Linked DNA regions of Homo sapiens. The protein of the gene in region 7 interacts with the protein of the main gene of each other region in a pairwise test. Each region holds a gene or a part of one and is shown on either strand. Other genes may lie near its edges. The genes, in order: CLDN12, NUP42, SEC16B, RAB11A, CFAP43, ADGRF5 and SEC13.

Region 1 (4,206 bases), on a different chromosome or scaffold from region 7:
GAATTTAAAGAAGGCTGGAGCAGGAACAGTGGCTAAGAGCTTTAGGAAGTCATGTATCCAATAGACCCTGTACTATTTTTTCCAGGCACAATTCTGAGTTATAGTTACAAGAGTTACGAGAGTACATATGTCTAATAGCAGCTAGCTTCTATTTTTTTGAGACAGGGTCTCGCTTTCTCACCCAGGCTGGAGCACAGTGGTGCAATCATGGCTCACTGCAGCCTCGACCTCCGAGGCTCAAGCAATCCTCCCACCTCAGCTTCCAGAGTAGCTGGGACTATAGGCATGTACCACCACAACTGGCTAATTTTTTAAAATTTTCTCATACAGTCAGGATCTCGCTATGTTGCCCAGGATGGTCTCAAACTCCTGGGCTCAAGGGATCCTTCCACCTCAGCCTCTCAAAGCGCTAGGGTTACAGGGCTGAGCCACCATGCCCAGCCCTAACTTAATTCTTGATGGTAACATTGAGAGTTCCTTCTACCTATAATTTGGGTTTTCTTAGAAACTGTAAGTCATCAGTCATTGTACTCACAAGAGAGGTCTGTCCTATACCTCTATTTTGTTGAACAAGAGAAAAAAAAAGAGTCATTGTTGGCAGATGTGGTAGCAGGAGGGAGGGAAATAAGATATAATTAAAGGACGTACTTACGCTTTGAGGTACCTGACAGTTCCAAAACAGCTTTATTCAGCTTAGAAGAGACACATGAAGATCTGAATACAGAGTAGCAATAATCTGAGCCTAAAGAAATAGGAAAAATACTCCAAATTAACATAGTACTTCTCTAAAAACCCTGCTTGAATTCCCATGGATTAGAAGAAATGATTAGTAATCACCTAAAACCAATGAAATGTTATACTAAAAAGGGCAGACAGTAAGTTTTTTAAAAAGGCAGTTTAGCAGGGGCACAGTGGCTTACACCTGTAATCCCAACACTTTGGGAAGCTGAGGCGGGATGATCACTTGAGCCCGAGTTCAAGACCAGCCTGGCCAACATGGCAAAACCCCATCTCTCCTAAAAATACAAAAATTAGCTGGGCATGGTGGCTCATGCCTATAGTCCCAGCCATGTGGGAGGTTAAGGCACAAGAACCGCTTGAACCTGGGAGGTGGAGGTTACCGTGAGCTGAGATTGCACCACTGCACTCCAGTGTTGGTGACAGAGAGAGATTCTGGCTCAAAAAATAATAATAATAATAATTAGCCAGGTGTGATGGTGCACACGTGTTGTCCCAGTTTCTTGGGAGGCTGACATGGAAGGATCACTTGAGCCCAGGAGTTTGAGGACACAGTGAGTCATGATCATGCCACTGCACTCCAGCCTGGATGACATAGCAATGATCTGTCTCAAATAATAAAAAAAAAAAAATAAAAAGGCTGTTTATTCCTTAATTCATGCATTATATATGAGAAATATATAGAATATAGAAAAATACGTAGAAATAGAAGAAAAAAATTAACTCATCTTGTGACTTGAGAATATAGGAGAAATGAGGATGAAAAACACTTTGCTGTCTTGGGAATATATGATTGATATTTAATGAATGTTTTAGATCATTTTCATGACTACGGTGAAAGGATAAGGAAGGTGGTGAAAGACTGTGCAGTTGTCTTGGAAGTAAAAGAAATTTTCTTTTACATTTTTAAAAAAGGACACTGACAACAAGACCAGACAAAGTTGATCTGAATTCTGCATCCTGAAATTTGCAACCAGAATGCTTAAAAAAAAAATAGTTCCACCAATGGCTCAACCTGATACTTAAAGATGCTTCTATATATCTACTTTAAACATTAGCCACTTCCTCTTCAAATACCATTTATCTCAAACAGGTAGGATGAGAATGGAAACTCATTATTATGTGCGCCTGAGAGTTTCCTGGATTGAGGCGTTCATCACTAGCCCTATTACGATCATTATGTAGAATGCTCTCTGCAACTGGCTGCTCGGAGATTTCAGTCAAGTCCCCCCCAACCCCTCCCCCGCCCCAAATGTGTTTCTTGGGTTGGTATCAATCATAATTGCACACTCCAAAGTCAGAGGAAATCGTTTTACAATTAATAACGCACAATAGAATCCTTGAGCAATCATTTTAAGTGAGGTCACCAAGTCTGACCTTTCCCTAACGTGGCTATGGGCCCCTTACAAGGCCGGGTGCACAGAACTTACAGGAAAGCAAACCAAGCTTCCAGAGCAATCCGCATCCCCCTCCGCCCCCCTCCTCCCCCCTCCGCCTCCTCTCCTCCTCCCTCTTTTCGAAGAGCCCTGTGTGTGGTAGACCCAGACCTGGCAGAAGGAAGAAAACGCCCTACTAGTTAGAGCCAATGGAGAGAGACCGCAACAGTGACTGTTAACGCTCTCAGAGCTAGCCCATCCCTGCAACACTGAGTGGGTTTGAACCGCAAGCAGGTCATCATTACGCAACCAGCATCAGCTGGTTATTCAAAAATAGCAGCTTGGGCTCCCCCACAAACCCGCGCCAGCAAAGCTCCCAGTCCTTGGCGGCTCCGGCAACACACCTCGACATTTCCATACTCCTGTGTACAAAATAATTTTTTAAAGCCTTACCAAATACCTACTCAATTTTCACATCCACAGATGTGGTCAGCGTTTTCCAACGCTCCTGATTCTCCTGGATTTAGCCATTTTACATAAAATCCTCAGTTACTTATGCAAAAGACCCAGAAATCGGAACATCTTGACCACACCTACCTGCTTCTCACACGCAGGGCATTTTACTCGCCCACACTGAGGAGCCTCTTGGAGCGTCTCCCTCTCAGCGTCCCAGGAAGTGCGTTCCCAGCGAGGTACACCGGAGGCTTCTGGGAGCGCAGTCAGGTTTTCCCGTGGCCCTGAACGGCAATGCCCTGGATGGCTGGGACTACAATTCCCAGAATCCACTGGGCCGCCAGCCGCAGGCAACATCCTGCGACCACCTCCTGCCCTTCCCTTTCTCTGCCTCCACCTCCCCGGATTTCTCTTGCACCTTATGTTCCGTCTAGAATTGGGTTATCGGTTAAAGAAAAAAAAAAGGCAAAACGAAACAAAACTAAAAGTAGTTTTGAGTTGGATACCTAAGTACCCAGGTGACTTGAAGGTGACTTGCCCGTAGGAAGGTTAGCAAAAATTCTTAAATCTGGATTTTTTTTCCCCTCAAAGTGTTTATCTAGGCAAAAAGTAGAAAAAGAGCTCAAAGTCTAGAACCAAACAGCCCAGATTTGTATGGGGCTTTGCTGTGTATTGATTGGGTGGCCCTGGGAAAGTTATCTCTACATCTGGAGGTTATCTGGAAAAATGGGGATAAGATCACCCACATCATACTGTTGTCTTGAAAACTGAGGGACCTAATATAGCTAAAGTACAGTATAGCTAGCTATTAGATATTTGAACTAATTTTACTCTCCCACACAATTTCTACTGTCCTGTCCCTTTCTCTGTTGGCTTCTCTCCAATGTGAAGTCCTGCATTAGTGAATGAATATCTGAATTAAACTAAAAGATTCCAAAGTCCTAAATAGCAATGATCTGATTTTTTAAAAAATAAAGGATGCTGAAGTGTTGTGATGCCTACTACTTCGAAATGATCACACATACACACACACATACACACACACAAATGGATATAAAGTGTGGCAAAGTGTATAATTGTTGGATTCATGAAGAATATGTTTGTGGGTGTCTCTTGTACTATTCTTTCAAATTCTCTGTATCTTAGAAATTTTTCAAAATAAAAAGAAGAAAAAGTATCATAGTTTATACAAAAGGATGGCACCCATCCCAAGTAAGTATAACCTTGGCAAGTAAGGTAACCCCTTTGTGCCTCAAGGTCTCATCTGTAACAGTATATCTACATCAGAAAATTGTGATGAGGATTAAATGAATTACTACAGAGACAGTTACAACAGTATCTGACGCATAATAAGGACTATATGTTTGCTATTAGCATTTTCCATTTTGCGTTGCTCTAGTAACAATGAGACTATTTGTCAGAGACTTTTTAAAAAGGGAGGGTAGAGAGGCTACTATCAGTCCACTGCTACCTCCTTCTTATGTGTGATACTGCTTTAGAGGATGGATAAGGTTATCTAAGGCCAGAAGCAATCCGATCCCAAAGCCAGACTGGGAAATGTAATAATGAGGAAGAAAGATAGCATTGGGTGGTGAAAAGATTTCTGGGCTCCAGGCCAGCTCTGGCAATAGCAGATGGA
Region 2 (3,500 bases), on a different chromosome or scaffold from region 7:
TATTCAGGAATCCACATTTTAAGAACCACTGCTTTAGGGCAACAGGCATTAGGTTCAATTTGGAATGGATTAATACTCAAGTACTAATACTTAAGCTGATTAAGGGCTTAATACTTTGTGGTTTCTTTATAGAAAATATCATTATCTGAAATTATCTTAGTTTATTTGCATCACTTATTGTTTTCCTCCCTCAAGAATGTAAGATTCATAAGGAAGGGATCTTGTCTGTCTTGCTCATCACTATATTCCTAGCACTTAGCACAAAAGAAATTCAGTAAATATTTGTTAAATGGACAAGTGAATAAATAAGAAGCGTTGTAATGCAAATGCTCACAGAAAATGAGCAACTAGAACTGAGACAGAGGAAAGATCCCAAGGTTCTGCGATATTGATTGCAAGAGCTCCCATTTGCAAGGTACCCACTGTTTCCTCAAAAGGACGGAGGCCCAGGAACACCCAGAGTGGGCTTGGGAAAGCCCGGTGGTCTAGGTTTCAGCCCAGAAAGGGCTTAGGGACTATGGACAAAAAAAAAAATAAAAATAAAAAATAAAAAAAGAGAGAGAGAATATTCTAAAGCAAATGCTATTCCAGGCCAGAGAGAGAGAGAGAGACAGAGAATATTCTAAAGCAAATGCTATTCCAGGCCAGGTGTGGTGGCTCACGCCTATAATCCCAGCACTTTAGGAGCCTGTGGCGGGCGGATCACCTGAGGTCAGGAGTTCTAGACTAGACTGGCCAACATGGTAAAACCCCGTCTCTAGAAAAATACAAAAATTAGCCAGGTGTGGTAGCGGGCAACTGTAATCCCAGCTACTCGGGAGGCTGAGGCAGGAGAATCACTTGAACCTGGGAGGCAGAGGTCACAGTGAGCCGAGATCGCGTCACTGCACTCCAGCCTGGAGGACAAGAGTGAAACTCCGTCTCAAAAAAAAAAAAAAAAAAAAAAAAGTTGCTATCCCTGTAGCCCAGCTAAGCCTCCTCACATTTAAACATTATCTCCAGAACAGGTCTCAACACAACTATTCTTAGAAGGAAAGACAGGGAAGAAAGAACAGAACCAGGCAGCCAAGGCCTTAATGACAGGCAGGATGACTCTTCTATTCACAACAGGAAGCTAAGAGGTTCCAAAGTTGTACATACAGGGAATCAAGAACGTAGAGTCTCTTCCTGGGCTTTATTTAAATGTTTTCTCCCAAGAACTATATGTCTTAAAAGACTATATTCTCCAACCTTAATCTCTAAATTATGAAGTTTGGCTAGAATACTCGAATACTTTAAACAATGCCCAAACTCTCCTAGTTGTAGCTAAGTTGGTAGTTGATTTCTTTATTTGGCATTCTTTTGGTTTTAGAAAATAATAGTTTTAGAACATACTTTAAAAATGCACAATTTTTCAGTTACCTGAAATATTAGGTTTCTTTTTCACTGGTGAATAAACAGAAAACATCCACTGCCCTGATGATTCCCAAACCTCCATATCTTTTACAATTCCTTCCCTGCAAAAAAGAAAAAAAAAAAAAGAGTAAAGGATCTTCTTAGCTGCTTGGTAAAATTTATTGTTAATGGTTTTCCACAACTGAAAATTTAAATTCTAGTAAATACTTTTCCATTATATTTTCTGAAGAGTGTTCTTTAAAGCACAAGTTTATAGAAGTGTGAACTATATTTCATGGTTACAAATAGTATTATAATGTCAGAGAAGTTAATGAGTTTGGCTTTCCAATACACTGACCCATTAACCAATGTTAATACATAACATTGGTTATGATATGTAACCATATCATATGGTATCATTGGTATGATATGTAACATTGGTTATGATAGTAATTACATAAATACTATCATAGATACCATACTTTTTTTAGGAATTAAAATCTAAAATACTAACTTTAATCTTTGTTAATTATCACAAACATCAATAATCATTTAACTGGGAAGAACAAAGTACCACTTACGTGATACAGAATCATAATATTTTAAAAGTGGGTTATAGGACTTCAGAGATCATTTTATCTAATTCTCACATTTTGCAACAGGGGAAACAGACCCACATCCATACAACTAATCTGTGGTAATGCCGTGGGTAGATTCGGCTCTAAATTAAAGTTTCTCCCTACTTAGACTATGTCAATAAAAGGAGAATTATCACAGAGAAAACTGTATTAAATTTAGAATTGCAACAAATGCAGAAAGGAAGGTTTTGTTTGCTCATTTACTTAAAAAAAAATCGGTTGTATATGGTATATGACTCAACATGTCTACAACTGGTTCTGATTTAATTAGGATAAGTAAAAGACTAACCAATTACATTTAAATTCCATCCTAGTCACCATGAGTTGAGAGAACATTACAGATAGCCAAGCATTGTTTTGACACCAGCCATAAATTTTACCATAAATATTCTCAAGAAATGTCATGTATCTACTCCATAATAAATGTAGGAAATCAAATGAGATCAGTTTGAATAGGATAATCCAAGTAAAAGTTTTAGAAAGAAATAAGATATGTGGCTGGGTATGGTGGCTTATGCCTATAATCCCAGCACTTTGGGAGGCTGAGGCAGGCAGATCACTTGAGGTCAAGAGTTCAAGACCAGCCTGGCCAACATGGTAAAACCCTATCTCTACTAAAAACACAAAAAATTAGCTGGCTTGGTGGCAGGAGCCTGTAATCCCAGCTACTTGGGAGGCTGAGGCAGAAGAATGGCTTGAGCCCAGAAGGCGGAGGCTGCAGCGAGCCGAGATTGTACCACTGCACTCTAGCCTGGGCAACAGAGCAAGACTCCGTCTCAAAATAAATAAATAAATAAATAAATGAGATGGTAAAATGACCTCCAAGTTCACAAGTTGTTCTAAATTACATCATACTTTGTAAAGGACTTGTAAGTTAGAATGAACTTAAGCAGGACTAATCTTAGAAAGATATTCACAATATAGTGTTATCAACACAAAGTGGAAAAAGCGTAATTACCCCTAGGAAGGCACTCTACTATTATAGAAAGATGATATATTTTTAAGTGAAATAAAATCTAGGGTAATACACAGCAAAAGAGTGGCTATCTATGAGTGATAGAATTGTGGGTGATTTTTCTTCTTTTTGCTACTCTGATTTAAAAATAATGCATTATTTCTTTTTTTAAAGAAAATATTGTATTGTGAAAAGATGTTACAAAAAAAGAGAAACAACAAAGATTGTAGGTGAAAAAACATAAGCAAATGGATAGTAATTTTCCTGAAAACTTTCACTTACAGAAGTTTCTTTTCATCTTTCTGCTCATCAGGACTAAGTGAAGCAAATGGGTTCTCAGACAATCCAAAGCCTTCCTTCCTGTTAGTTGAAGCTCCAGAATCAAAAGAACTGAAATATGGCTTTTCTTGATCTCTGCTGCCCCCCCATGGTGTGGATTTGGAGAAACTGGATGGCTGGATGACATTGGAATATCTCTGGCTAGTTGTATTCCATCCACGTCTATTATTACCTAAAATAAACAATAAAACAAA
Region 3 (3,500 bases), on a different chromosome or scaffold from region 7:
GAAAAGAAAAATATTCTGACTGTTGGATTGAATGATATTTGATTCTTTATATGATACTTCACTATTAGATTTTTCTATAACAATAATGTACCACTTCAGTCAGGAAAAAAAAAAAAACGGAAAAACATTAAAGTTTGTTAAGACCTGTACCCCTGTTTTTCTACTTTAAAAAGTTATAGGATGTAACCCTCCAACCAGGAGAAGCTGAAGAACGCCTCAGGTTTGGGACCAACACTGCCCATTGCTGAGGGCAGGGGTGTGTCCAATCAGAGCTAGATGGAATGATTCACCAGACATGAGGACCTTACAGCCTAACTGAGGAGAAAAGACAGGCAGGCACTGTCACAGCTACCACAGATCTTTCTTTGAAATAAAGCCAGGTAAAAATTAAAACAAGGAAATATCAACAGTCTTCCATGGCAGGACAGGGTAGGGCAAGCGTTTTGTGCAGCACTGAGAAGATGTCAGAGGTAACAGAGATCTGAGAGGCCAAAACGAATCAGCTCAGTTGCTCCCTCTCTCCCCATGGACACAGGTTTGTGGGGCTGAGCGTAAACAAGAACACAGCCTCCCGCCCAGCTCCCAGGAGTTGGAATAGGAAAAGGCAAGGCGAGATGTGGAAGAGAAAGCTGCTGCAACACTGAGGAGGAGCTTGCATGTGGCTGGGAAACCAAGGCAACTGGTAAAAACCAGAAGCATTTGAGTGGGCAGTGGCATCTTTTATGCTGTGCGCTCTCACCTGTGGTTTGGAAATGACCTCTTGGCCATCAGGAGGCTGGGAAGTTTCTTGAGACACTGTGTTCTCTCCTGCATCACAAACAGAAATGGAAATAGCAATTGGAAGTTGTGCTTTTCCCATCTATCCTGAAGAAGGGTAACTGGGACACAATCAGCTTTCTTAACTGCAGCAGAAGCTCGGAGCCCATAAGCCCAAGCCAATCACAGCAAATACAAAGAATGCTCACGTAGCTCATCTCAATCCCAGCCACCCCAGGACATGCTGTTCAACTCATCCTCTACTTCCAAAGCCACTCTTCAGGAATCTTGGAAATCAGAGCAACATCAAGCTAGGTCACAGGGATCCTCCACCACTCCTCTCCATCTGAGCCTCCATCTTGGACAGGACCTAATCCTGGAAGGTCTAAGAGCTAATCATTCTAGATGGCTTCCACCATCTCCCTGGCATCACTCAGCATTGCTTACCCATACTCAGCCCTTGTTGTCGAAGGTCTGATGGGCCTGAAGAAACTCGGGACCAAGACAGAAACATGGGTTTCTGCTGGAGAGCCTGATAGTAAGCTCTTGAGTGCAGGATGATTGGAGAAAGAGAACTTGGCCTATATTTTTCCACCCTGTAATCTCTCTCCTAGAAACTATGTAATCATTTGGATGGCAGGAGTGGCTCCATTTGCCCTGCTGTACCCAGTGGAGAGATGGACTGGGCTGGAAGATAGCAATCTCCTTCAGATGTATGCAAAGCACCAATACAGTGGCTGAAAACTAGCAGGCCCTCCGTAACGGGCACACATCCACGCATCTGTGTCTTTCCCAGCTCCAACCCTACCTCCTCTGACTGGTCCCACCACCTCCCTTTCCTGCTTCCTCCCCACCCAGACCCTACATTCAATGTGGCCACCCTAGCGGCCAGGTCTTACCAGGGCCCAGGTGTGTCTGCAGCATTTCCTCCCAGACTGTTCCTCCAGTGGCCTCTGTCACTGCCACGCTGCTGCCAGTCCCTGGTAGATGGGTCTCAGGAACTGAGTAAAAAGGCCTCGGTGTCCCTGTCTGCCCTGCACCCCCTCCTGCTGGGTAGGAGCCCGGCTGGAGGGGAAAGGGCTGCTGTGGGCTGGGCTGGAGCAGGCAGGTCTGCTCAGGTGTCAGCCACAGAGCTGAGCGGTACCCAGGGGCTTCAGAGTAGCCTTGACATCCAGAAAAGTCCTGGTAGAAAGTGTTTTCTAAGGACGTGGAACAAAGGTAAAGAAGTCAGACCTGAAATGCGGCATTTGCATACTGATCACACCAGAAACATTCCTGCTTATGTCTTCTTTGGAAAGCAGTCACAAGGACGAGCTGTCTAATGCGGCTTCCAGTAACATGATGACAAGTAAAACACAGTGATTGTAACATCCTCATTGCTGTTTACAGAATTTTGTTTGTTTGTTTTTTTCTTCACTAGTGTACCCTAAAAATAAAATCCTAAGCTCCTCCATTGACTTAACAGACTCCCTTTTGGCCAAGGGGACCCCAGAAAAACCTTAAAAACTGAGTTCCCAGCCATGACAGGATGGGAGGTGAGACACCCCTCATTATACCCCCTCTCTTTTGCAGTTTAGACACAACTGACCAGCATTAATGTTAAAACAGAGATCTTAAGACTAACAGAAAAGACTCTTGGTGGCCATAAGATACCAAACTATACACAGAACCTAAAGCCCTGCCAGGCAATGGTTAAGTCCCGCACCCCTACACCTTAAGAAAAAACTGCGTTCTCACGGCCACAAGGTTTTTTTTCTCTGGCAGCTCAACAAGCACTGGCCTCAAGATGAGCAATGTTAGAACAATTACAACTCATTCCATTCACAAATGCTGACTAAATGAGCCTCCGTTCCATCAGCCATGACCACAGCTTTGATTGGACAAGACTGATATCAGTAACTTTCTCCAGATAAGAAGACCACCAACCATGAACTGGGTCTGGCCAGTTTACAGAGGCTCCCCACTTCAGTGCTTCTGTGTCCCGAAAAGATCTTTTGACGCATAGGGCCTAACTGTAATACACTTAAAGGATAAGTCTCCACCCCAAGGTGAACATGGGTCATGTGTTACACGCACATTAGTTCATTATCCATGTGTGAGGACCTCCTTTGTGAACAGTCACAGCTCCTCCTATAACCTGTTAAATATGTATGTTTGATCAACCCATTCAACTTAAATTCTTGTCTTACCTCTCCTTCCCTCAAAGTGCCTGGCTATACTTCCCAGCCTGCGGGATGGCCACCTTGCAGGATGGAACCCTTTGTAAGAAATAAAGTCTCCTTTCCAAATGTACACATTGTATGACTTTTTTTTTAAGTTAACACTGCCTTGTATGATCCCTGAGCCTCTAGCCAGTGGGTTGGGAGGGCTGAAATTACCATCCTATCTAACTCCACACCTTTTTATTTTTTGATAAATTATTTCTTCTTTAAGGACTTCCTGATGGACATGGGTATTTAAAACTTAGAAAGCTTCCAGCTAAAAACCCAAATCAGACCACAGAAATCATGGCTCTGTTCTTAAGGAATCAGAGTACATTTGCCCTGGAAAAGACCTGACTGGTAACATAAACTAAGGTGTGGACCTATAACAAGATTGGTCACAGGACTGGCATGGGTGGCCAACCCGCCTGCTCCACTGGGCACCAAGGCATCAGGAGGCAGGGCTGTGGGGAAGCACAATCCACAGGCACCCAGCCGGGCTCTCCTCCACCCCCCACCTTTACAGATCCTGCTACACAGTGA
Region 4 (2,999 bases), on a different chromosome or scaffold from region 7:
AGGCTAATTGTGTTAATTTGACACATTTTTAGAATTATCTTGCTTTTTGAGAGTAGTGTTTTTGGAGGGACAACTGGGAGAGTAAACAAAAATAAGGTACATTCTCTGTTCTTAAGGACTTTATAATCTAGTCACAGGGAACAACTTTTAGGCAGTGCAGTATAAGACCAAACGTGTTACATACAGATACTTATTGTGGAGGAATTTAGTGACATTCATGCGGTTATTTATTTATCACAACACATGTTATATGTTGCAGTACAGCAGTAAGACAGACACAGTTTTGATCCTTACAGAGTTTAACACTTAGTAAAAGAGGCAGACACTAAATTATTTTTGATAAGTGTCATGAAATAAAAATAGAGTTTACATATAACATCTTAAGTTGCCTATTTTGTATCATTCTTTAATTACAATTTAAGTTTTGTTCAGGAGGTCACTGATAAACACATTATCTTTTTTTCCCTTCCAAGAATCGTTTGGGATTTTAGCATGTTTGTTAAGATGTACTCTGCCGAATGCGTCTGATAGTGCAAATTTATTTATTTTTTGTGTGGTACAATGTCATTGTGTGTAGGCAATTTTTGTTTGTTTGTTTGTTTTTTGGGGTAAAGGTAGACTGAAAATACTCTTATGGTTTACTTTGAATCTAAGTCCATAAACAATGTAATGCTATTGGCTTACCTCTTTTTTTTTTTTTTGAGACCGAGTCTTGCTCTGTTGTCTAGGCTGGAGTGCAGTGGCACGATCTCATCTCACGACAACCTCCGCCTCCCGGGTTCAAGTGATTCTCCTGCCTCAGCCTCCCGAGTAGCTGGGATTACAGGCACCCACCATCATGCTTGGCTAATTTTTGTATTTTTGTAGAGACAGGGTTTCACCATGTTGGTCAGGCTGGTCTTGAACTCCTGACCTCAGGTGATCTGCCTGGCCTGGTTTACCTCTTTAAACAAAGATTTATTTGACTGGTGAACCTTTCCCTCTGACATGGAAAAACCTTTGTTTCTTTTCTTACCCAAAGGGCAATTGTTAAAATAAAGGGTTGAATCTAATCAGTGGCTGTTTGAAAATAAAACTTTAAATTTATGTATTCTCTGTTCAGTTTCCTTAGGGACTTTGATGCAAATATATCTCCTACCTTTATGTATCTTTTATCCTAACTATGATAGGTTTATTCACACTAAGTATTGTGGTTTCTTTTTTCCTTCAGAGATTTACCGCATTGTTTCTCAGAAGCAAATGTCAGACAGACGCGAAAATGACATGTCTCCAAGCAACAATGTGGTTCCTATTCATGTTCCACCAACCACTGAAAACAAGCCAAAGGTGCAGTGCTGTCAGAACATCTAAGGCATTTCTCTTCTCCCCTAGAAGGCTGTGTATAGTCCATTTCCCAGGTCTGAGATTTAAATATATTTGTAATTCTTGTGTCACTTTTGTGTTTTATTACTTCATACTTATGAATTTTTCCATGTCCTAAGTCTTTTGATTTTAGCTTTATAAAATCATCCACTTGTCCCGAATGACTGCAGCTTTTTTTCATGCTATGGCTTCACTAGCCTTAGTTTAATAAACTGAATGTTTGGATTCCTCAGTTATTGTTTACTTTTCATCATGGAAGCCTGTCACTGTATGTAGGACATAATAGAACTTGATCACTTGAAGCTCAGACCTATTGGTCTTGATCAAATCAAACTAAGAAGACCTTAGAAATAAGCTACCATTTTGCCACAGAGCAGCTTATAGGTAATACACTCTTCTCTCAGTGCAGTGTACATTTCCACAAATCTAAGAATTGCCCTATAAACATAGCAGGATTTTGAGAGCTTGAAAATTTTCCATTATTCTGGACATGAATTTCTAAAATGCCTTAATAGGTTTATGTAGTTGAGTAAATTTTGTTTTTTAATTTTTGTAAGCATCAAAGTTGATTAGAGAGGGGGGCACTTTTTCTGGAGAATTCTCTTAGTAAACACAAAAGATTGTTACGGTTTCATTAGTAGTATGGTTGTGGGGCCATAAGTTAAACAGTGCTGCCTGGTAGGCTGGGAACTGAAGAGACTTGTGGTATTCCATCTCGGGTGCCTCTGTTGGCAATGATCAGGCAGCCCAAAAGATTTAAATGATCTATAATAATTTCCAAGCGGTAGATTATGTGGCATTTTATTGCTCAGGCAATAATTGGTTTAATGCTGGTAGTGTCAAATTTTGAAGTGTTAATTTTGTCTTAGAACCTTCCAGTAAGTGAAATACAACCTAGTTTTATCACCATATCCACCAGCAGGCATGGATAATTATTTTAACAATGCTAATATTTGAGTTTTGCAGTATATTATAGAATATAGTCCAGTTAAATCTTTGGTTTCAGTATGTCTGAAGAGTACAGTGAGAGGTTAATTTCTGCTCAAGTGGTACCACTTAAAGGCATGTATTCTTTTAGTATGTAAAATGAAATAGTACCTTGAGTTTAAATAGAATGCATTTAGGCATTGTAGAGATCTGAAATAGTTTTCTTCCACTACATTGTTGAAATCAATGAAGCAATTAGTTTCTCATTCAGAAATGTGCACACTAATATTTAGTTTTGCTTTCTCGTGGATAATATTAAGCACTTACTCTGCAGTTTCCTGGAAGTTGTGTCAACTGCAGTGATACTATTCAGGATGGTGGGAAATCCCCAAAAATATGTATGTGTGGGCTTGCTTAGATTACTATATTTCATAGTTAATCTTTTGTCTCTTGCGGTGCTCATGATGTGTGGGGCACACGGAAGGCATTGCTGTAGTCAGTCATTTTGGTTTTCTTCTATAGCCATTTTATTATTTTAGTGTATTAGTTATGAAGATAATATTATCTATTTGTAAATTGCTACTTTGTATTTTATGCATGCTCTGTAATTTGATTTTTTTTTAGTTATTGATTTGGATTATATTCACATTCTAATAAACAGTTATAGGGGGATTATTTCTTATGCTGTCAGATTACATTTTTCCTTTGAG
Region 5 (4,168 bases), on a different chromosome or scaffold from region 7:
AAGGCAGGAGAATCACTTGAACCCAGGAGGTGGAGGCTGCAGTGAGCCAAGATCATGCCACTGCACTCCAGCCTGGGTGATAGAGCCAGACTCTGTTAAAATAAAATAAATAAAATAAACACTAATAATTCAAATGGTAGGCAACATTGAGCACTTGGCATACATACACATACAGCATATTATATATTTTCATCTATCATCATCACCGCAGCCTTCACATTAGACACCATCTTTATCCCTATTTCATGAATGAGGAAATTGAGGCTCAGAGACTTGACTTTAGAAGCTATACAAACATCAATTCACCTGGATTTTCAACAAATATTAGGAAAGAAAAAAAAGTCATTGCTCTGAAAAAGGCAATAGTCTTCTAGCCCAGTGCTTCTCAAAGTTTAATGTGCATATGAATCACCTGGGAATTTTGTTAAAATGCAGATTCTGATTGAGTAGCTCTGATGTGGGAGCCAAGTTTCTGCATTTATAACAAGCTTCCCAGGTAGCACCAATGTTGCTGGTAAACAGACCACACTTTGAACAGCAAGGCTCTAGCTAACATAATTTAAATCCTCAGTGATCAGCTTGATTCCTTCTTTAAAAATGTATATTAAAAAAAAAAATGGGGCCAGGCGTGGTGGCTCATGCCTGTAATCTCAGCACTTTGGGAGGGTGAGGCAGGCGGATCACTAGGTCAGGAGTTGGAGAACAGCCTGACCAACATGGTGAAACCCCATCTCTACTAAAAATACAAAAATTAGCTGGGCGTGGTGGTGCGCACCTGTAATCCCAGCTACTCAGGAGGCTGAGGCAGGAGAATCACTTGAACCTGGGAGGCAGAGATTGCAGTGAGCCAAGATCGCACCACTGCACTCCAGCCTAGGCAACAGGGCAAAACTCCATCTCAAAACAAACACAAAAAACAAACAAAAAAAACCTTTCAAAAAATAAATCTTCACTTATAATAGATTTAGTCAACTCTTTAAACAAAATCCTTCAATTATGGGCAGAGGAAGGGTTCTCTAGAATACCTTTCAATTTGGTCCTTCTGGTCAATCCTGGAAAGCTGTATACGTAGATGAGAGGTTTTAGCTTCCGGTCAGAAAAAGCCACAACTTCACAGGGGATGTTAGTTGCCATGACGCCCACAATTCCATTACTACACTGCAGTACAGTCTTTTTCTTGGTTTCAATATTAATAAATATTACATAATTCCCACAAGGGTAGCAAATGGTGTTGTCGTTGACAAAATGAACATTCTGCTTAGGGAATCCTTGCACCCATCTTTGGGAAAAGATATGTCAACATCAATATAATACATTTCAAATACTTTTTTTTTTTTAACAAAGCAAAGGGTCATCAAAATCTTTGAAACATTTCTATTTTCATGTCCTTTCTGCCCCCAATTTCTAAGATAAAAGAACACACATGCTGGCTGTGAGATCCATTTGAGTCAATGAATTATAGAAATTTAAATGTAGACCTAAAGTTCCGTAGGTCTCCCAGGCCTTCTTCAGATAACTTTTTCAGCAAAGGAAACTCTCTGACCAAACCTGAGAAAGTCTCAGAAGGACTTCTGGGGTCTTCTATACTTGGAAGACAAAAAGTGAAAATAACAGAGAAAAGAGCTTGATCTCAACACAGTGGCATCCTGGGCCATTCTTTTATAATTAGTTTGATTTTTTTAAATAAACTTTAAAAAACAACTTTGCATAGGACAGCCTGCTTTGTGGTTGTTAGCAGAGTAGGAAAATTGCTTATTTACACAGATGAAGAGTATGTGGCCATATTTTAGATTTAAAAATACAGATAAACGTAGAAAATAAAAGGAATGAAGTCGACGTGAATGAAAGGCTAGCACACAAAAAGAACATACTCTCAAGTAAGGAGTGCGTGCTAGGTGTATGCTAGAAAGGAGAGGAGATGAAGGAGATTCTATTTTTATTTAAATATTAAAGGTATGCTTGAAGATGGTGGAAAAGGCAAGTGAAGGACACTGGTTTGGTGAGAAACCTCGAGACATTAGAGTGTCCAGGACTAGCAGGGGATGCTGTATAGAGTGGAGGTGGGGGCTGGGAGGAACACTCTAGAATGTAGGGGAAAAAATGCCACCTATATCTGCGCAGTGCTTGATGCTTTTCAAAGGCTACTATAAATGCAAATAAATCCAAAGCTAGTGGATAGGAGTTAGAAGGAAAGGATTCAGGGACCTAACTTTGGGGAAAATCACCAAAGGTAGCAAGGACGGGATCCGGGCTGTCGCCAGGTGGAGGGGGAGGGGGATGTGATCAGAAGACCCGGATCACTAGCGGGAATCCTGAGCTAGAAGGAAGAGATGAAGGGTGCAGGGGACGTTGCTGGGTAAGAGACGGAGGGTCAGGGTCGCAGAATAAGGAGTGGGAAAGACAACTGGGGACGGGGTCAAGGAACAAGGGGATGGGGAGCGGACAGGGGAGGTCACACGGGGAGGGAGGCTGAGGGAAGGCACTGGGGGCAGAGGGGAAGAGGTCGAAGCTGCGGGGAAAGCCGCCCTAAGGAACCGGAGGGAGAGGAGGGAGGAGGGGACTTGGGGCAGGAGGTTCCGCGAGACCCAGATCGGTCGCGGGGCCGTGAACACCGCACCTCACGGACAAGGACGCGCCGCCGGCGGAGTGGGGGCCTTCGTCGCGCTCCCGGCCTTGCGCCATGGGCAGTGTTTTCCTCAGGCGGGAGCAGGCAGCGCACGCAGCACCCCAGGGCGGGTCGGTTACCTTTCCGCCGCCGCGGGGCTGCGGGCCGCGACGCCGCTGCTGTGTACACCCGTATCCCGGAGACCGTAAGCCCCGCGCCCATTGGCTCTGCGCTTTGGCCCGCTCCCTTCTGAGCCGAGCAGATTGGTGGAAGGTCTGCCGCTCTCGGCCAATGGGTGAGCGGCAAGCCAAGCGAGGGGCGGGCCCCTTGCTGTTCAAAGTGTGGTCTGTTTACCAGCAACATTGGTGCTACCTGGGAAGCTTGTTATAAATGCAGAAACTTGGCTCCCACACCAGATCTACTCAATCAGAATCTGCATTTTAACAAATTTCCCCAGGTCCGGGCCAATAATTGCAAGTAAGACTCATGCCTACAATCTCCGCGCTTTCGAAGGTCAGAGCGGGAGGATCGCTTGAGGCTAGGAGTTGAAGACCAGCCTGGAAGACATAGCGAAACCTGCCGCGCCCGTGCCGCATCTCTACAAAAAAATTTAAAAAGCAGCCGGGCATGGTGGTGCACGCCTGTAGTCCCAGCTACTTGGGAGACTGAAGTGGGAGGATCGCTTGAGCCCAGGAGTTCAAGGCTGCGGTGAGCTGGGATGACGCCACAGCACTCCAGCCTGGGCGACAGAGCGAGACCTGTCTCTAAATAAATAATTATTTTTAAAAATCAATAAATTTCTAAACAGACTTTCATTTAGAGTGCTGACTGTGCCAAACATTGTTGCAACGTCTTCACATCTCCCATCAGCCCCATTTTACAGATAAGTAACGTGAGGAAAAGAGAAGCACATAATTTGTCCATGGCTACAAAGTTGAGTGGGACTTTATTTATTTATATTATTTATTTATTTATTTTTGAGATAGGGTCTCACTCCGTTGCCCAGGCTGGAGGGCAGTGGCTTGATCTTGGCTCACTGCAACCTCCATCTCCTGGGTTCAAGCGATTCTCCTGCCTCAGCCTCCCAAGTAGCTGAGATTACAGGCACGTGCTACCATGCCCAGCTAATTTTTTGTATTTTTAGTAGAGACGGGTTTTCACCATGATGACCAGGCTGGTTTCAAATTCTTGACCTCAAGTGATTCGCCCGCCTTGGCCTCCCAGAGTGCTGCGATTACAGGCGTGAGCCACCTTGCCCAGCCCTGAGTGGGACTTAAACGCAGGTCTAGCTAATTTAGAGCTCCAAGCCCTTAAGTACCATATAACACTTTGAAATGTACCCTCTTGCTTCCTCAGGGAAGCAGACAGCTCTGGAAGTAACCTGATTGAATGGTCGGCAGCTTGTCATTCCTTCTTCTCTCCCATACCTTCCCTTAGACTCCCTCCCTTACCCTTCTTCCTTTCCCTTCAGTCGTCTTCCCTTCTCTACCCTTCCCTTCCTTTCTTTAGGTCTTTCCTTCCTGTCTTGCTTTCTTCTCTCCATTTCTTTCACAAATATTTACA
Region 6 (3,500 bases), on a different chromosome or scaffold from region 7:
GGACAAGCAGGGAGAAACTGGAGGCCACTACTCACCTGTTTTACCAAACAAATTGTTAAATCTCCTTGATATTGGAGAACTCATAGAAAACACAGGTGTGGATGAACCCAGGGATGTTGACTAGAAGAGAGAAAAAAAGGGACAATCACAAAGCAAATTTGTGGGACCAAAGCTGTTTCCATCTCTAGAAGGATTGATTTTCCACCCTCTAGTGGTCACTGCCGGAATCTCTAGTCCCACTCCCAGAGGTCACATTAAAATACTGGAATCTTATCATCTGTATTAGAAAAATAACTGTCAAATACAAGTTTTATTGTTTGTTAGGCTTCTAGCATTTTCTGACATGTGAAAGGCAGTCAGATATATCCAAGGGCAATAGTTGTGTTCCAAAATGAACTACAGAAAATTCTATCCATTATTATTCTTCAACTTGTTTTCTCTAATGCCTTGAATCCCCCCAGAAGATTGCTTCTCATTGAACGTTTGATTTCAACCTTAAGTTTATATCATATATTATTTTAAAACCTATTTAAATATGTGGAGTAGCATCTCAATGACAGCTCTATGGCTCTATTTAATAGACAGAATGACTTGAGAAGCAAAAACAATGGAATGATCTATGCCAAATACAGCTGTTGAGGGAGACAGGTTTGAGGATGCAATATATTTAGCCTAATTGATCAAAATCCCAAAGAAAAAATTTAGTACTCTGTACTTCAGAATGCTAGTGGAATACATGATGTTATAAAATGAAAAGTCTCTGCAGAGAAAAAGTTTACCTTTGAGTGCTGTGAAGACCATCTCGACAATGAAAACTTATTCAGCAAAGCTTCCTGTACCTGCATTGTTAAAAAGAAGCTATCGTAACTTCAACATGCCACAAGCACTTCAGACTTTTCTAGAAACATGAAACTGTCATTGCTCTTACCTTCAGATCCCAGAGGCATCCAAAGAGTAAAATGAATAATCCCTGAGAAAAAAAAGATTGAAAAGAAGTGCATTTTAATTATAGTCTATTGTCCAGCAAAGGAGGAAGTACTGTTAACCTGGTGTTAAATTTGTACTACTTCTTTTTCCTTCTGAGTTTATGGAATGAGTCCAGTACATGATACTGTTCAAAGACAGGCATTTGGTCCACACCAAGGGACTCTAAATGTTATGATGTTAGGAAGATATTTTCTATTTTCCAATTTTCCTTTAGTTGAAAACTGGAGGTCCTGTTGGTTATGCTATTAATACACCTCTTGTGTCTACAATATTCTTTACATAGCTGTGATAAGAATCTGGGCTATGGGGTGGGATAACTAGTTCCTTCCAAATGAGGCATATCATGAAGGTCATTACATATGAACTACATAGCTTGGAGACACAGGCCCAGTAGCAGAAATCAAGGTTCATATGTTCTTGGCACAAGCATCCTGAAAGCAGTATCTCGAGTGTGCCTCCAGCCTCTGCCTCTTCACAAGTTTACAGTGGCCTCAATCCTTGGGCAAGTTTTTTTCTATCCTTACCACCTCTCCATTGGGTGAAACAGAATTAATCACTTCCTTCCTTGTACTTTAAAGGCTTGCTATCTATACCTCTGTTATAGTTCTTCTAACAAACTGGCCTGCACTGTAGTTAGTTATGTGCTGCAGGAGAGCGAAGAAGATGTTTTTTCATTGTAGTATAATCAAGCAGATTGTCTGGCATTCACAGGACATTCATTCTCTGATTTTTGATGTTTCCAGAGAAGCTGCTATGTGGTACATAGGATTTATTTCATTCAAATGATTATTGAGAACCTACTCTGTACCAAGGTCTCTATCAGGCATAGAGGTATAGTGATGAACAAGAAAGGGGCAATCCCTGTCCTCACAAAGACAGGATTTTCATTTAGGAGATAATAGACTACATCAAGATAATCTTAGACAAATGGGGATTTTCCTTTTACTAGTGTAATCAGTGTATTTAGCAGAGACTGGCAAATGACACTAAATTATAATGTAGGTGATAAAAAGCATGAGGTGCCATAGGATCAGAAGAATGTGTCCTTTCCATCTGATTGAGTTCTCATTATTACTGCTCTTTAGAGCTGAGGCTTCCTCTGGGCTGAAATCCTTCCCCATTCCTACTCTTGTTTGTGTTTCTATCATTAATTTGTCCTACAGGAATAAAATCTTCCTGAAAGCTCCGCACTGTAAAACTCACCTGGAAGACATTGAGGATGGCAAATATGATATGGAACACAAGGTTGGTCCCTGGGAACACAGTGGTGAGACCAAAACCCCAAGTGAGGCCCAAGAGTGGTGTGAGGACCCCAATGCTCTTGCTGATCTGAAACAGGCTGCTCTTCTCCTGCTTGCATGGCTTGTCTCCAATGGAAGGCCTCAGGATCTTGGTGATGACCACAATAGTGATGGTTATGTTCACCACCACAATGATCAGTGCTGGGATGGCGAAAGCCAGCAGGGCCTTGGTGTCCTCCCAGTTGAGCCAACAGACATTCTTCCTCGTATAGACTTCCCGGGGCTGGGTGGCTCCCAGCGTGATGACCGAGATGGCAAGTGGGCAGCCATAGCCAAGACAGAAGGCAATGGCTTTCTGAGTGGACCTGCTTGTTTCATGCAGAATGAAAACCAGGCGATAGAACAGCATGAGGCCCAGTGTCAGCATCCAGAAGAAGACGCTGAGGTAGAAGAAGTGGATGAAGAAGGTGGCAGCCACACAGGCTGTCTTGCAGAGTATGTAGCGATTGTCCTGGATGGCAGCGACCACAATGAACCAGGTGTTGGCGACCAGAAGGGAGGCAGCGATATTCACTATGCAGGTGTGGCGCATATAAGAAGTCCGGTTCTTGGTCACCGATTTCCACACCACAGCTTCCACAACTAGACAGGCTGCCAAGCTCAAGATGGAAAAGCCCACCCCAACATAAGAAATAATATCCAGGAGTATTCCCAGGAGAGAACTAGGATCTGGGGAGTCAGGGGACATGAGGATGGAGAATGATGTTAGGTGGTCACAGATACAGGTGACATTGTCCCCATCACCTTCTTCTACATAGCACCCACTGCTGTCCCACCCCCCTGTGTTGTTGGCAAGCCTGAAGTTCCAGAAGACACACTTCGTTTCGCCGCCTGAAGGGCTATTGTTCTTAAAAGTCATTGAAATCCTGAATGGCATAGTTGTATTGTGGCTGACAGTGGTTGTCATCACTAAGCTCTCTGCAAAGTTATTTTCCTGGATATCCTGGGCAAGGATGGCTTGGAGAGTTGGGAAAGCCATGGTGACAATAGACGAATCCGACTGCAAGTTTTCTAGATAGCTCTTGTCAATGACCACATTGCCCCAGAGGTCAAAGTATGGGAAAACAAACCTCTGTTGATAGGTTTCTGGGTGGCTGGACTTGATTACCATGCTGCTCATCTGCACATTAGTTTGGGAGAAGGACAAAGGAGGGCTATCTCCCGACTGTAATGCTTGGGAAAATCTTTCCACTGAATGTAGTAGCTGTGAAC
Region 7 (3,500 bases):
GTTTTATGAAGGGGAGTTCACCTGCACAGGCTCTCTCTCCCTTTTTGCTGCCATCCATGTGAGATGTCACTTGCTCCTCCCTTGCCTTCTGCCATGATTGTGAGGCCTCCCCAGCTACATGGAGCTGTAAGTCCATTAAACCTCTCTTTTTTTTGTAAACTGCCCAGTCTCAGGTATGTCTTTATCAGCAGCGTGAAAATGGACTAACACACCCCGACGCTACTAAAAATACAAAAATTAGCCAGGCGTGGTGGCACACACCTGCAGTCCCAGCTACACGGGAGGCTGAGGCAGGAGAATCACTTGAACCTGGGAGGTGGAGGTTGCAGTGAGTCAAAATCGCGCCTCTGCACTCCATCCTGGGCAACAGAGCCAGACTCTGTCTCAAAAAAAAAAAAAAGGCAGTGGCTCACACCTATAATCCCAGTACTTTGGGAGTCTGAGGTGGGAGGATCACTTGAGCCTACGAAGTTTGAGGCTGCAGTGAACCATGATCTTACCAGCCTGCACTCTAGCCTGGGTGACAGTGAGACCCTGTCTCAATTTTTAAAAAAAAAAATTGTTAATAATAAATAAAGAGGAGAATCAGTCATCTTTGGAAAGTGATAGAACCAGTTCAGAAAGAATCAAGCGTTTATCCAGCCTTTCCTTTTTGACCTTGTATTAGTCTGTTTTCTCGCTGCTGGCAAAGACATACCCAAGACTGAGCAATTTACAAAGGAAAGAGGATGGAGAACTCACAGTTCCACGTAGCTGGGGAAACCTCACAGTCATGGCAGAAGGCAAGGAGGAACAAGTCACAGCTTACGTGGATGGCAGCAGGCAAAAGAGAGAGCTTGTGCAGAAAAACTCCCATTTTTAAAATCGTCAGATCTAGCGAGACTTATTCACTATCATGAGAACAGCATGGGAAAGACTTGCCCCTGTGATACAATTACCTCCTACCAGGTCCCTCCCACAACACGTGGGAATTCAAGATGAGATTTGAGTAGGGACACAGCCAAACCATATCAGACCTCTATCCCTGGGTAACTGAATAGTTAATGAGAAGAAGTGTCCCTATCTGGAGCATTCCATGGAATAAATGACAAAGAAAGGATGGAATTAGAGTATCACCATTTTACAAGCCCCAGTGAATTAAGAGAGGCCTGAGTTATTGACAGCTGTTAATATAAGAGACAATCTAACGTGCCTCCTGATGAGAGAACGCACCAGCTCTAGTCTTGCCAAAGGGATCACACCTGAGTCTGTCCAGTCTTGGCTCCAGCTGACAGTTTTCAGGAATTCAGAGGAACATATTGAACTGCATATGAAGCAGCAAAACCCAGACCGAGAGACTAGGCTCTCTTCAGCAGAAAAATTGTAAGGAAAAAAATCAGAGGAGGAATCTGCAAAGTAGGAGATGTAAAAAACATCCAAAAAAATGTTTAATGGACAAGACTAAACTATAGTATCTAGGGGTGCACATTTGGGTGATAAAATGGGGGGAAAATGGGTTAGAAGTTAGGGCAGTGGTTACTTATAGTGGAAGAGGGAGCTGTGATTAGGAAGGGCATAATGACAGGGCTTTTCAGGCAGGTGGCAGAATTCTTGTTTCTTGATCTATTACTTTATAATAAAAGATTTTTCTTAAAAAAAAGCTCCAATGTACCATTCTTTCATGTGTTTAGAAAATGTCCTGTTTCTTAAACTTGTGGGAGTTCTTAATTTCTACTTTTAGCGCACACTGCAGAAAAATGCACACACTGTTGGGATCCTTGAGGGAGAATTCTGAGCAGTGGACCCCATGATGAGTGCTTCATGTCAGCCTTCACACACACTCCAGTCCTGAGAAGCGGAGGGGAGAGGGACAGCAGGCTTGGGTCTGCAGAAGCAGTGTTCTCTTGCAAGGCAGAGTCACCATGTGTCCCATCTTTACAGATTGGCTGCAATGCCGTCAGCTGGGCCCCTGCTGTTGTACCTGGAAGCCTCATAGACCACCCATCGGGGCAGAAACCCAATTACATCAAGAGGTTTGCATCAGGTGGCTGTGACAACCTCATCAAGCTGTGGAAGTAAGTAGGGATGTGTGGCCTTCTCTTTGAGGGGACACTTCTACCCTTTACCCTACTCACCATGACTCAGCCACACTCACAAGAAACAAGGTCACCTTTCTTTCTCCCTCCTGCCAGTAAAATACTGTTTTCAATCTGTTGGAGGACATCCTTGAAAAACAACACAACACCTGTTCACCTAATTCCCAACTGTTGGAGCTGACTCTTTGGCTGTGGAAGCAGAGCATTTTCTGGAGGGTTTTTTTTACAGCTGGGGTGAAGGGAATAAAATGCCACAAACTCCATGAATGAAAGAAGAAAGATGGAATCGCTTCTCCACCCCAGGCAGAGCCTGTTGGGTTGGGGAGGAGTTGAGGTGTGGGAACGGCCCCCTGCTGATTCTCTTTCTGTCCCCACTGTTAGGGAGGAGGAGGACGGCCAGTGGAAGGAGGAGCAGAAGCTAGAAGCGCACAGTGACTGGGTTCGAGATGTGGCCTGGGCCCCCTCCATCGGCCTGCCCACCAGCACCATCGCCAGCTGCTCCCAGGTCAGCCCAGGGCCATGAGTATCCCTTGTCATTTAGTCTCGAGTCAGGCCCATCAGCTCTTAGTCTCCTTAGCAGAAAGTCCTCTGGGAAGGTAAAGGGAGAGCAACAGGCACCTTTGGCCCAGAGCACAGGGAGTCAGGTCATTGTGTGGGGAAGTCTTGGTCAGAAGCCACAAGTGGCCTGCCTCCACTGAGATGAGACAGCTACAACAGAACCGGCACCAAGAAGGAGGCGGATTCGGGATGAATTTTCCCTTCTGACCCATGTGAGACTAGGGCGCCGAGGTGCCCAGGTGCAGTTCCAAGTGTTCCCAAGCAACGATGGGGTTGGATGGGAATTATACGCTTAGCTACCAAGCCACCCTTCCCAGACAGCAAGGACGGCCAAGGGTGAGCCTTCAGTTATACACCACCACCCTAGAGGGAGCCAGCTAGGCCTTTCACATCATGGGAACCTGTTTGGTTTGGTTCTAAACTTGGGATTTTTGTGCTTTTTTACTTGTGCCTTCTCATTCTTGGAGCTTGGTTTTTGGAGAGCTCTGCCCATTCAGTTGAGAAGGTATAGACGGCCAGTGGAAGTGACTTGGCAGGCATGAGGAAAACCCCAGAGAAAATCTGAGTTAGCAATGCAGACAGAGTCCACCTCCGAAACCCGGATGAGAAAAGGAATCCGGGAGACTCTTAACCAGTGTGAAGAGACAGAAACAAAGCTGTGGACGCCCCAGAGGTCCTCGGCTCCCCTTTGAATCCCCCACCCTGTTCCTGCAGAGAGGTGCCGGGTGGCTCTAGACTGGGAGGACATCACATCACAAACGCAGGAGTCTTGACTCCACCTCCTGACTCTATCCTGTTTCTTCCTAGGATGGTCGTGTGTTCATTTGGACCTGTGATGATGCCTCAAGCAATACGTGGTCCCCTAAA

What was found.
Region 1: the proteins of SEC13 (region 7) and CLDN12 interact in a two-hybrid assay, tested with the Homo sapiens proteins (one large-scale study listed by BioGRID and IntAct).
Region 2: the proteins of SEC13 (region 7) and NUP42 interact in a two-hybrid assay, tested with the Homo sapiens proteins (one study listed by IntAct).
Region 3: the proteins of SEC13 (region 7) and SEC16B interact in binary tests that used the Homo sapiens proteins (3 or more experiments, as listed by UniProt).
Region 4: the proteins of SEC13 (region 7) and RAB11A interact in a two-hybrid assay, tested with the Homo sapiens proteins (one study listed by BioGRID).
Region 5: the proteins of SEC13 (region 7) and CFAP43 interact in a two-hybrid assay, tested with the Homo sapiens proteins (one large-scale study listed by BioGRID).
Region 6: the proteins of SEC13 (region 7) and ADGRF5 interact in binary tests that used the Homo sapiens proteins (3 or more experiments, as listed by UniProt).

The regions. Positions count from the first base shown.
Region 1 is NC_000007.14:90,402,055-90,406,260, reverse strand, and holds the start of CLDN12 (claudin-12), read right to left. Parts: upstream 2,801-4,206; 5' UTR 2,712-2,800; intron 743-2,711; 5' UTR 653-742; exon of another isoform or gene 649-652; intron 1-648.
Region 2 is NC_000007.14:23,185,048-23,188,547, reverse strand, and holds part of NUP42 (nucleoporin NUP42), read right to left. Parts: intron 3,479-3,500; coding exon 3,250-3,478; exon of another isoform or gene 3,246-3,249; intron 1,497-3,245; coding exon 1,402-1,496; intron 1-1,401.
Region 3 is NC_000001.11:177,935,559-177,939,058, forward strand, and holds part of SEC16B (protein transport protein Sec16B), read right to left. Parts: intron 1,956-3,500; coding exon 1,656-1,955; intron 808-1,655; coding exon 740-807; intron 1-739. Other genes in the region: CRYZL2P-SEC16B (protein transport protein Sec16B), read right to left, coding at 740-807, 1,656-1,955. UniProt on the Homo sapiens protein: Plays a role in the organization of the endoplasmic reticulum exit sites (ERES), also known as transitional endoplasmic reticulum (tER). Required for secretory cargo traffic from the endoplasmic reticulum to the Golgi apparatus.
Region 4 is NC_000015.10:65,886,491-65,889,489, forward strand, and holds part of RAB11A (ras-related protein Rab-11A), read left to right. Parts: intron 1-1,210; coding exon 1,211-1,350; 3' UTR 1,351-2,999. UniProt on the Homo sapiens protein: The small GTPases Rab are key regulators of intracellular membrane trafficking, from the formation of transport vesicles to their fusion with membranes.
Region 5 is NC_000010.11:104,229,565-104,233,732, forward strand, and holds the start of CFAP43 (cilia- and flagella-associated protein 43), read right to left. Parts: upstream 2,801-4,168; 5' UTR 2,683-2,800; coding exon 2,618-2,682; intron 1,280-2,617; coding exon 1,026-1,279; intron 1-1,025.
Region 6 is NC_000006.12:46,855,939-46,859,438, forward strand, and holds part of ADGRF5 (adhesion G protein-coupled receptor F5 precursor), read right to left. Parts: coding exon 2,191-3,500; intron 971-2,190; coding exon 929-970; intron 840-928; coding exon 780-839; intron 121-779; coding exon 36-120; intron 1-35. UniProt on the Homo sapiens protein: Adhesion G protein-coupled receptor. In alveolar type II (ATII or AT2) cells, required for normal lung surfactant homeostasis.
Region 7 is NC_000003.12:10,304,113-10,307,612, reverse strand, and holds part of SEC13 (protein SEC13 homolog), read left to right. Parts: intron 1-1,920; coding exon 1,921-2,054; intron 2,055-2,456; coding exon 2,457-2,580; intron 2,581-3,440; coding exon 3,441-3,500. UniProt on the Homo sapiens protein: Functions as a component of the nuclear pore complex (NPC) and the COPII coat. At the endoplasmic reticulum, SEC13 is involved in the biogenesis of COPII-coated vesicles.